Homo sapiens: one gene and its partner. The protein of the gene in region 1 purifies or fractionates together with the protein of each later gene. This does not show direct contact. Each region holds a gene or a part of one and is shown in the gene's direction. Other genes may lie near its edges.

The links.
Region 2: the proteins of DPH3 (region 1) and ATE1 purify together in Homo sapiens (affinity purification with mass spectrometry; 2 studies listed by BioGRID and IntAct, with this or other methods). This does not show direct contact.

The regions. Positions count from the first base shown.
Region 1 is NC_000003.12:16,256,462-16,262,161, reverse strand, and holds the end of DPH3 (diphthamide biosynthesis protein 3), read left to right. Parts: intron 1-1,332; coding exon 1,333-1,398; 3' UTR 1,399-5,101; downstream 5,102-5,700.
Region 2 is NC_000010.11:121,739,750-121,743,174, reverse strand, and holds the end of ATE1 (arginyl-tRNA--protein transferase 1), read left to right. Parts: 3' UTR 1-2,751; downstream 2,752-3,425. UniProt on the Homo sapiens protein: Involved in the post-translational conjugation of arginine to the N-terminal aspartate or glutamate of a protein. This arginylation is required for degradation of the protein via the ubiquitin pathway. Does not arginylate cysteine residues.

The DNA.
Region 1 (5,700 bases):
GATAGAGGATCAAGAGAGGGTTTAAGGTGGTAGAAATTCAGCCTTCATTAGTGAATATAGACATGGAAAGTTAGATTTAACCAGGTTTAAGGTTTTCCCAAGTGAATAGTAAGGAGTGAGAGAAGAGTGGTTATAACTGACCATGGAGTTTGAACTAGGTAAAGAGAACATGAAGGGAGTGAGGGGCAGTGAAAGGGTGGTAGGATGAATATGGTGGAGGTCCAGAGGGGTTGGAATATGGCATCCAGGGTGGATAAATGACAGCAACAGAGAAGAATAGCAAGGCGGTAGTCTCAAGACATAAGATTCTAAACTGATGGGTTTTAGACAGGAAAGGAGAATGGAGGCAAAAAGGAGGAACTAGCCCCACTTCCAATCCCTCTGGTACTAGGACTCTGAGAACACAGAGCCTCCACTAGATGGGCTTGTAGGGGAAACTGTCCTTAAGAATATGACTTCATCTCAACCTCAGCCCTGTTGACATTTTAGGCCTGATAATTCTTTGTTGTTCAGAGATACCCCGTGCATTATAGGATGTCTAGCAGGATCCCTGGCCTCTACCTACTAGATGCCAATAGCAATCCTCAGTTGTTTCAATTCAAACTGTTTCCAGATATTACCAGTGCTCTTGGGGATAAAAGGACATTTTGAGAAAGAGGTTGAGAATATGAAGCATTGTGCTAACAATGGACCATGAATTCCAAAGGGCACAGTGAAAGGGTTCCACATATTGGGCAACAGAGTAGCAGGGACAGAGTAGGGGCTGATCCTTCGGGAATCAGATTGCTGGAGGTGAGGGATAACCTTGGAAGCAGAGATTTTTGGTGGTAGCTGACATAAGCCAGGATAAAAGACCAGAGATTGAACTTCATTTACAAAGTAGCTAACATAGCAGATTATCCATGTTGGGAACCACATAAAGACCTGTCCCTTTTAGTTAGAAGAAGTAATTACTTTGAAGAGGACTGGTATTTGAATGACCAAATATTAAAGTGGAGAAGTTTTAGTGTAAGTAGTAATTAATACAGAAATTTAAAATATGTGGCATGTCTTTATGTGATTTCTGAGAAGTGGTTGCTCTGAACTGAAGATAGGGATGTTTGTTTATAAGGTGCTTTGTATTAAATAATGAATTCAGATCAAAAAACTGATACATGTTTAAGATTCTACTTCTGGTGCTGTCATTGGCTCTTTGAACAAGGATGAAATGATAATAGCAAATGAAAAACAATTAACAGCGCTGGATTGATGCTGTAACAAAATGAAGGTTTAATATTAATGTATTTGTGACCGGAAATTCATTGGTTAATGTCATTTCTCACTCTGTCTTAGGATCAGTTTGTGTGTGGAGAAACAGTCCCAGCCCCTTCAGCCAACAAAGAATTAGTTAAATGCTGAAGAAGCCTTCAGGAATCCAAATCCTGAACATTTGGAATGAGCCCAGATAGAAATATCGAATGCAAAGCTACTGGCTTCACAGAGACAACCATTTATGATTTGCTGTTCTGTAAGAGTGTGGATTCTTTCTATCAACTGCTGATATCATCTTCAGGAAGCAAGTCCATAACATGACATATCTGGATTTTGTGCTTAGAACCTTAAATTGGAAGCATTCTTAATTATGCATCTAAATTTAAAAGAAGATAATTTCAAAACAGTGCTTTCTTTCCCTTGGTTTCATCATTTTCATATCTTAAACCAAATTACTTCGGTATCTGACAACAGCATCATCTACCTCAGTCATTAGGATTTCTTAATAAAAAAGAGATTGTATTTTTGACTTGGTTATTAAGATTATTAAAATTAGCCCTTCCTTTGAAATATGACATCAGCTTTGCTGTTCTAAATTTAAAATTAGTTGCTTCATCAGTACCACACTTCCAGTTTCTATACCAAGCCAGTCTCCTCAGTTTTCCCATTAGAATGGACATGTTCTGTTCAGCGTGTCATTTCTGTAATGCTTCATGCAGAGAGTTTGGTCATAGTATTAAAGAGAAAATACAGTGAGGTCACAATGTCTCCAGAGCTAAAAGTTAGTGAACAAGAAAGAAAGTCCAAAATGAAGTGATGAAAGAATGAGGACTTTTCTTATATTCTGCATATTCCTTGGAAGTCAGGACAAGATGAAAAGAAAAACATCCAAAAGAAGTGAAATTGGTGACAGAATGAGAGGAGCAAAGCATACCAGTGTAGTAAGTGGAATGTTTGAATGACTTTGCCAGGTCAGAGCAAGTAATATTTCTGTATCTGAGTTTTTGTTTGTGTTTTGATAAGGCTAATGAAATTGCATTCCAGGTAGGGGTTAACGTCAAATTTCCATGGCTGGTAGCTGTGCTTTTGGCATATCACAGTGTTGTGTCACTACTACAAGGTAAAGCATCTACAGCGGAGAATGAGCTTGAAAATGAGAGACCTATTGTGAATAAATATGCCCATGAGAGCATATTTAATAAGCCTCTATAACATGCAGCCAAACCAGACATTCACTCCTGCAGAGAAATGTTGCCCTGGAGAAAAAGAAATATATAAAGATAGGCTATCACCCTTCTTTTGCTGCAGTACTAAGCATAGCAAGAAATTAGAATCATTTACATTGGAAATTTGAAAATTCCCTTTATATACACAACTTTACTGTGTATAAATAAAAAATATTTATTAATGCAGTGATGTCCGTCAGGTTGTTTTAGGAATGGCTTCTGCAATTAGAAAAATAGCTTGCTAGAATGTAAATGTTCTGTTACTGGTAAATGTACTGCACACATTCATTGGACGTTAAAACAAGTGAGTAGCCTTTTTTACCTGCCAGCAGCATGGCTGTGTGCAGCCACTAGGCTGAGACAATAAATTACCAAAAATTATAATGTACCGAGCTGAAAATGCTCAGTACATTATGTGGCATATTCTGGATGTGATGAGAAATCTCATTGCCATTTGGGACACTGACATCCCAGAAGTAATCCACAACTGCTTTGCAAAAGCAAAGTGACTGCTCAGATGAACAGAGCAGAGTACTCACTCACTATGGTGGCATCAGCTGCAAAGCAAAATGAACTGTCCCATGATCATGTTGATGGTTTTCTAGATACTGCCAACATGTTAGCTCTTTCTGATGCTGATGAGTTTCAAACACGAACAGACACCCTTGATGTGGGTTTGCTAAGAACATAGAAGAACAGGAAGAAAAGTTGCCAGGTTCACACATCCCAGGAAAAAAGAAGCATAAAAAGCATTAGCAGTCAGTGACTGATGATAATGCTGCAATAATGGGAATGGTTTTGTTTCTAAACCAAATTATTTCTAAATCAAATCATTTATTGCTTTGTTTCTAAAGCAATTGAGTCACTAAGTTTGTGAACTGTAGGAGAACACATCAAGATTGAATCCTGTGTTAAGCAGAAGGTAAAACCAGAGCCAGGCGCAGTGGCTCGTGCCTGTAATCCCAGCTACTCAGGAAGCTAAGGCAGGAGGATCATGTGAGGCCAGGAGTTCAAGACTAGCCTGGGCAACATAGAAAGACCCTGTCTCTAAAAAATCTTCTTTTAATTAGCAAGGTGTGGGGCCTTGAGCAAATTGCTTGGGCCCAGGAGTTTGAGGCTGTGGTGAGCTGTGATCACACCACTGCGTTCCAGCCTGTGTGACAGGGCAAGACCTCATGCCTAAAAAATAAAGAGAAAGCAGAGTAAAACTGGACTCTGAGATACGACTAAAGTTCTGTGTGATACGTGTGCCTTATTTAGCTCAAGACATTCCTGGAGCACCTATAAAAACTGACTTGTAATCCAGGCTATGTCTCTTTTTAGCTTCGTAATCTTTGGCAAGGCCATTGGATTCTTCAGCTGTACAATTAGGAGACTCGATCAGGTGATTGCCTTTCTCAGCTGTCAGTTCTCTAATTTCAGGCTTGGTAGCTTGTAGGAACTGAAATTGCAATTAAAACCTTTATAAACTCAAACTAAATCATGAATTACAGAAAAAGTCCATTCTTCCAAAACTTGATGTTACCACACTTACAAGTTTAAAATATGAAGTCGACTGTTTAAAGGATTCTGCATATATTCTAGTGTGCACATTCAGAAACATTTTTCTTGGAAAAAGTACCCAACATTTTTTATAACTGCACATATTAATTTATTGCCAGAATAAATTGCATTGCATGCTAAATAAAGTCAGATAATTCAAATCCATTTGCTTTTATGTAGTTTTTCTTCTAAATGTCAACATTTTGAATTAAAATGTTTATGATTTTATATGAGGTAGAAATCTTAACTGCTTTGGGGTATTGTTAATAGACTTTTTGTTATGGACAGTAGTTTTTAAATAAGGAAATTGCCAATTTCTACAGTTTGGGCTCTGGATTTCTATTGTTTGGGAAAAAAATAACTGAGTCAAGTGGTAGTAAGACAAAGTTGACATTCTTAGATGAGTAACTCAGTTTATTACAAGGAAAGAAAACTGATTGTTTAAGGCTGATGATCAATTCTTGGAGTGGTTTCAGAGCCCAGCTCTGGTCAGAAGACAATTTGAATCTTAGTTCCTCCACTGTGATCTCCGAGAAGTTACTTAATAATTATATTCTGGTTTGTGAAATCTGGATCATAGTACCTCTTTGACAGGGTTGCTGTGTGAACCCATTCATTCTGCAATTAGAAAAATAGCTGTCATGTGCTATGCACTAGGCAAAGAAGTACCTGTCACATGCTAGGCACTAGGGGAAGAAGATTCGGTTTCTACATTTGGAAACTTAGTGGAACTAGAAGAGACAGAAGCAAGATTACAGATGAGTTAGAGCCCCCAAGGAAACAAACCAGGTGATGTGGGAGAGAGTAACTGGGTCAGGTGACTTTTTAAGGGAGTCTGAGCTCTGGCACTTTTTCTAAGACCTGAAGGATGAGAAGGAAACAGCCTTGTGAAAATGATTAAATGAGCTAGTATCTATAAAACATGACAGCTAATGCCTGTCATGTGCAAAAAATGGTTAACTATTCTAACTCCGAAAGGAATTAAACATTGTTTTGCGCTTTCTCCTAGTCCATGTTCTGCTGCTGTAACAATACCTGAGACTGGATAATTTATCAAGAATAAAGGTTAATTTGGCTCATGAGTCTGGCGCCTGGGGAGTTCATGTTATGACCATGGTGAGGGTCTCGTGCTGTGTCCTAACATGATGGAGAAGCAGAACGGGAAGCGGGCATGTGCAAAGATACCATACTGGAGAGTCAGCCTTATTTTATAGCAACCGCCTCTCTTGGTAACTAATCCAGTCTTGGGAGAGGGAACACTCACTCCCACCAGATGTCATTAATTTCTTCAAGGGCAGATCCCTTGTTATCCAAATACCTCTTAAAAGTCTCACCATCTTTCAACACCATTACGTTGGGGACCAAGCCTCAATATGAGTTTGGTGTGGACAAACCATATCCAAGCCACAGCAAACATTGACAGTATTCTTGGCATAAATATGAGAAGTGCAAAGTTTTGGACACCCTTGCCTCCCTCTTATTGAATCTAGGGGTAGGGCCCAGCAACCTGTGTTTTAACAAGCCTGCTTGCTGATTCGCATGCAGTTAAAAGTTTGGGAACCACTGGTTTTCAAACTTGACAGCACATTTGTAATCGCTTCGGGCGCTTTAAAAATTTGATGCCCCAGTGAGTCTGACTTAATTGATTTGGGTGCAACTTGGGCATCAGGATTTTTTAAAA
Region 2 (3,425 bases), on another chromosome or scaffold:
TGAAATTGCTGCCAAATGTTATGTAGTTTAATAGAGAACTTGAAAAAATAAAACATTAAAATGGAGCTTGTGTTAGCATCAGGTATCCATTTGTTCAGGACAGTCCTGTTCATGTCTGTTGTCTTGGCATAGTTTTTTCCCCTAGAATATAGTACTCCCTTTTACTCTAAAAAATATCCCAGTTTGGACAATAAAATACATAATTACTCTAGTTATATTATTTGCTTTACTTCTAAAAATGTAAGAAATTGAATTTTTTTAAAGAAAAATGTTGGTTCCTGCCTTGATCTAAGTCTCATCCAAAGGAAATAAATAGTCACTAGTTTTTTATCTTACAACTCAGGACATTTGTCTTTGGTTATTAATGGAAATTAGTATGTGATTACTTTCATAGTTATGCCACAAATCACATTGAAGAAGGAATCATTCCGACCTCTGTTCCAGGACAAGAGCTAGAACAATCCATTTCTTGTCCTTTGATTTGAGAGTCACAGTCAGGGTGGCTTCTGCCACCCTTAGTAACTCAGAGCAGAGGCCAGCCCCCTCCTTCCCTCACTTTCTTTTGCTGAGTCCTTTGCCCACCTGTCAAGGTGGCAGGCACTGTGCTGGGTACAGGAGGACAGTCAGACATGTCCCTTCTTAGCTATAGTCGAGCTGTCTGGGAAACAGGATGAAAAACAGGAGGGTTATTTTCTTGTGCCCTCTTTGTCAGCTGATCCCCTCTTCTGCTACCAGCTATTTGGCCAGCAAGCCGTTTTTAGTCCCCACTTTGCCCATTTTTCTGTTTTGGTTCATCGTTTCTTAAAAGCCATGTTATAAAACATGGTAGTTTGAATCCTGTTGCTAATTTTAAACTTTCCTCTAAAATGTACTGAATTTTGACAAAAATTTGAAAATATCCTCAGCTAACTAGAATAAAAAGGATCATAAAACAATGATTTTAAAACTGAAATCTCTAGAAACTCAACATCCAAGTCAGCCGCATTTCTTCATTCAGAGTGTGTGTGTCACACCTGCCAAGGTGCTGCGTACTCTGCTAACCGAGCTAGAGTAGTGAGCAAAGCCATTTTCTCTGATCACAAGATTTTACATTTTTCTGGGATTTTGACCTGCAAAGTAGTCTCGTAAGAGCATTTGAGAGACTTACTTGGAACTGCCTTCAGAATCTATAGAGCCTTTTTTCTCTTTTTCCTCTAAAATGAAAAGAGCTTCATTTTATGATTATAACAAAAGTGACACTGTAAGCAGTTAGAACATTAAGAAGTATAAATAAAAAGTAAAAATCATCTACAACCCTACCATACTCAGAAGGAGAAAAGAACTGTCATGTATGTATACACACATACCTATGTAATTTTAATATAAATAGAATTATGTTCTACATGCTGTTTTATTTCCTCAACAGTAAATTATGGACATGTCTGAAATGTGAAATAAATTTCAAAATAAGGCTTCAGAAAGTGTAGTAAGTAATCTCTGCATTATTAAAAATAAGCAGGGTAGGGCTGGTACTTGGCTCGCTTAGCATTTGAATGTCCAACTTGGTGTTATCACTGTATCTTCCCTCCATTTGTCTTTGTGATTAGCATGTAAAATGGTATTCATAAAGATCACAACCCTTGAATATCAGATGAAGAGAAAACTTGACTCCAACATCTTACCACAACTCTGGTTTCTTCCTGCAGAATTCATTTTCAGAGGAAAATGATGAATCATCCCTGTCTGTGAACCACTGTGCTTTCCTTGAGGGTGGCATTGTAGGTTGACACCAGCAAAGACTCAGAGTGACTTGAGCATTGGAGATCCTTCTACTTGGCTGCTGTATTCATGCATTATGTTGGTTTGAGAATAGCTAGTGTATTGATCCAAGTAGTCAAAGTGTCTTAAAAGGACACCTATTTGTCCTTTTGAGCCCCAGCTGAGTGAATACTGATAGTGGACTAGAAAAGCATAGTCAAGAAAAGTGACCCACCTTGTTACTTGACCAGCAGTCTAGCTGAGAGATCTGATTTTATGTTCGTAACTTTCTGTAAAGAAAGACACAAGGACTTTTCAAAGACAGTTTATATCTTTCCAAGGCAGGAAGCTTTGCATTTGCAATCTTAGTGTTGTGTCCCTTTCTGATTTTCAAATACATCACACCTGCCTTCCTGTTTTGGGAGCAAAGATGTAATTTCAATTCCCCTTGCTACCGTCCTTATTTAAATTATTTCCATTCTAAGAGATTTTTGTTATTTTTTTAAATGTAATCTGAGCACTTTTTTGTATTCTAAAAGATAGATGATATCAGATAAATATGTTGTACATTTGATTAAAATTATTTAGATAAATATTACTATGTTGACTTTTAAATAGCTTTATCCTATTTTTCATTCATTTTGCAAATATTTGTTGTGTGTAGTTTCTTAACGTGTCAGAATCTATTATGTAAAAGAACCTTTCCAGATTTCTGAACAGTATATGCTTTGATTTTATAGGCTTTATATTATTTCAGTATGAATAAAGATAAGGAATATGAAACAGTTAACTAAAATGTATCTGTCGTTGCTAACTTGAAAAATGAAGTAGAAACAGTTGGAAAATGTTTGAATTAGAAGTTATTCAAGTGCACACTCTTTTCTAAAAGAAAGCCAATGACTATAAGGCAAAAGAAGTTTGACTGCATGTGGTATTTTTTGCTCTTGTATATGCTTTTTGAACAAGCTATTTGATAAAGCCTGAATGGAAAAAATAAAGCTGTTTCTATCTGCAGTGGCTCTTGGTGGTCATTACTTAAAAGACATATGTTTTCATCTTTAAATTCCTGAACACATTTCACCTGCTGTGAATATGTAGAAAACAGAGGTAAAACATTGGCTATATGAGTCATAAAATTTAATTTTCACTAAATGGAGTTCCAGACCATGTGGTTATCTAAATCAAAGTACGGTGGATTCCTTTCTCAGAGAGTAAAGTAAATCCCATTTTAAGCCAGAAGTCTGGATTTTCACAAGATAAATTAGGGAATAGACTTTTATAACCCAAAGGGATTCAAAATAGGACTTTATCAAATTCAAATATAATTTATCTTAGAACGTTTACAGAGAAATTTTAAAAAATATAAAGTGTGCTTTAATTGTTCATAATAGTCTGTGGTATATTTATGCAATACATTTACTAGTGTTTTATCTCTTTACAGTAAAGAGGGTCCTGGTAGGTTGGTGATAAAATGAATCCTATTTCCAAGTGATTTAAATATTAGTTACAATTCCCACTGTCATTTTTTTCCTCCAGAATGGACTTAGCCTTTTCTTAGTTGAAATGGACAGTGTTCATCAGGAAACATTTAGACAATATAGAAAAGAATACTGAAGAAAAGTAAAAACAATTTTAATCCCATCGGCAACAACTCCTGACTACCTTTCACGTTTCAGTGTAGACTAAGA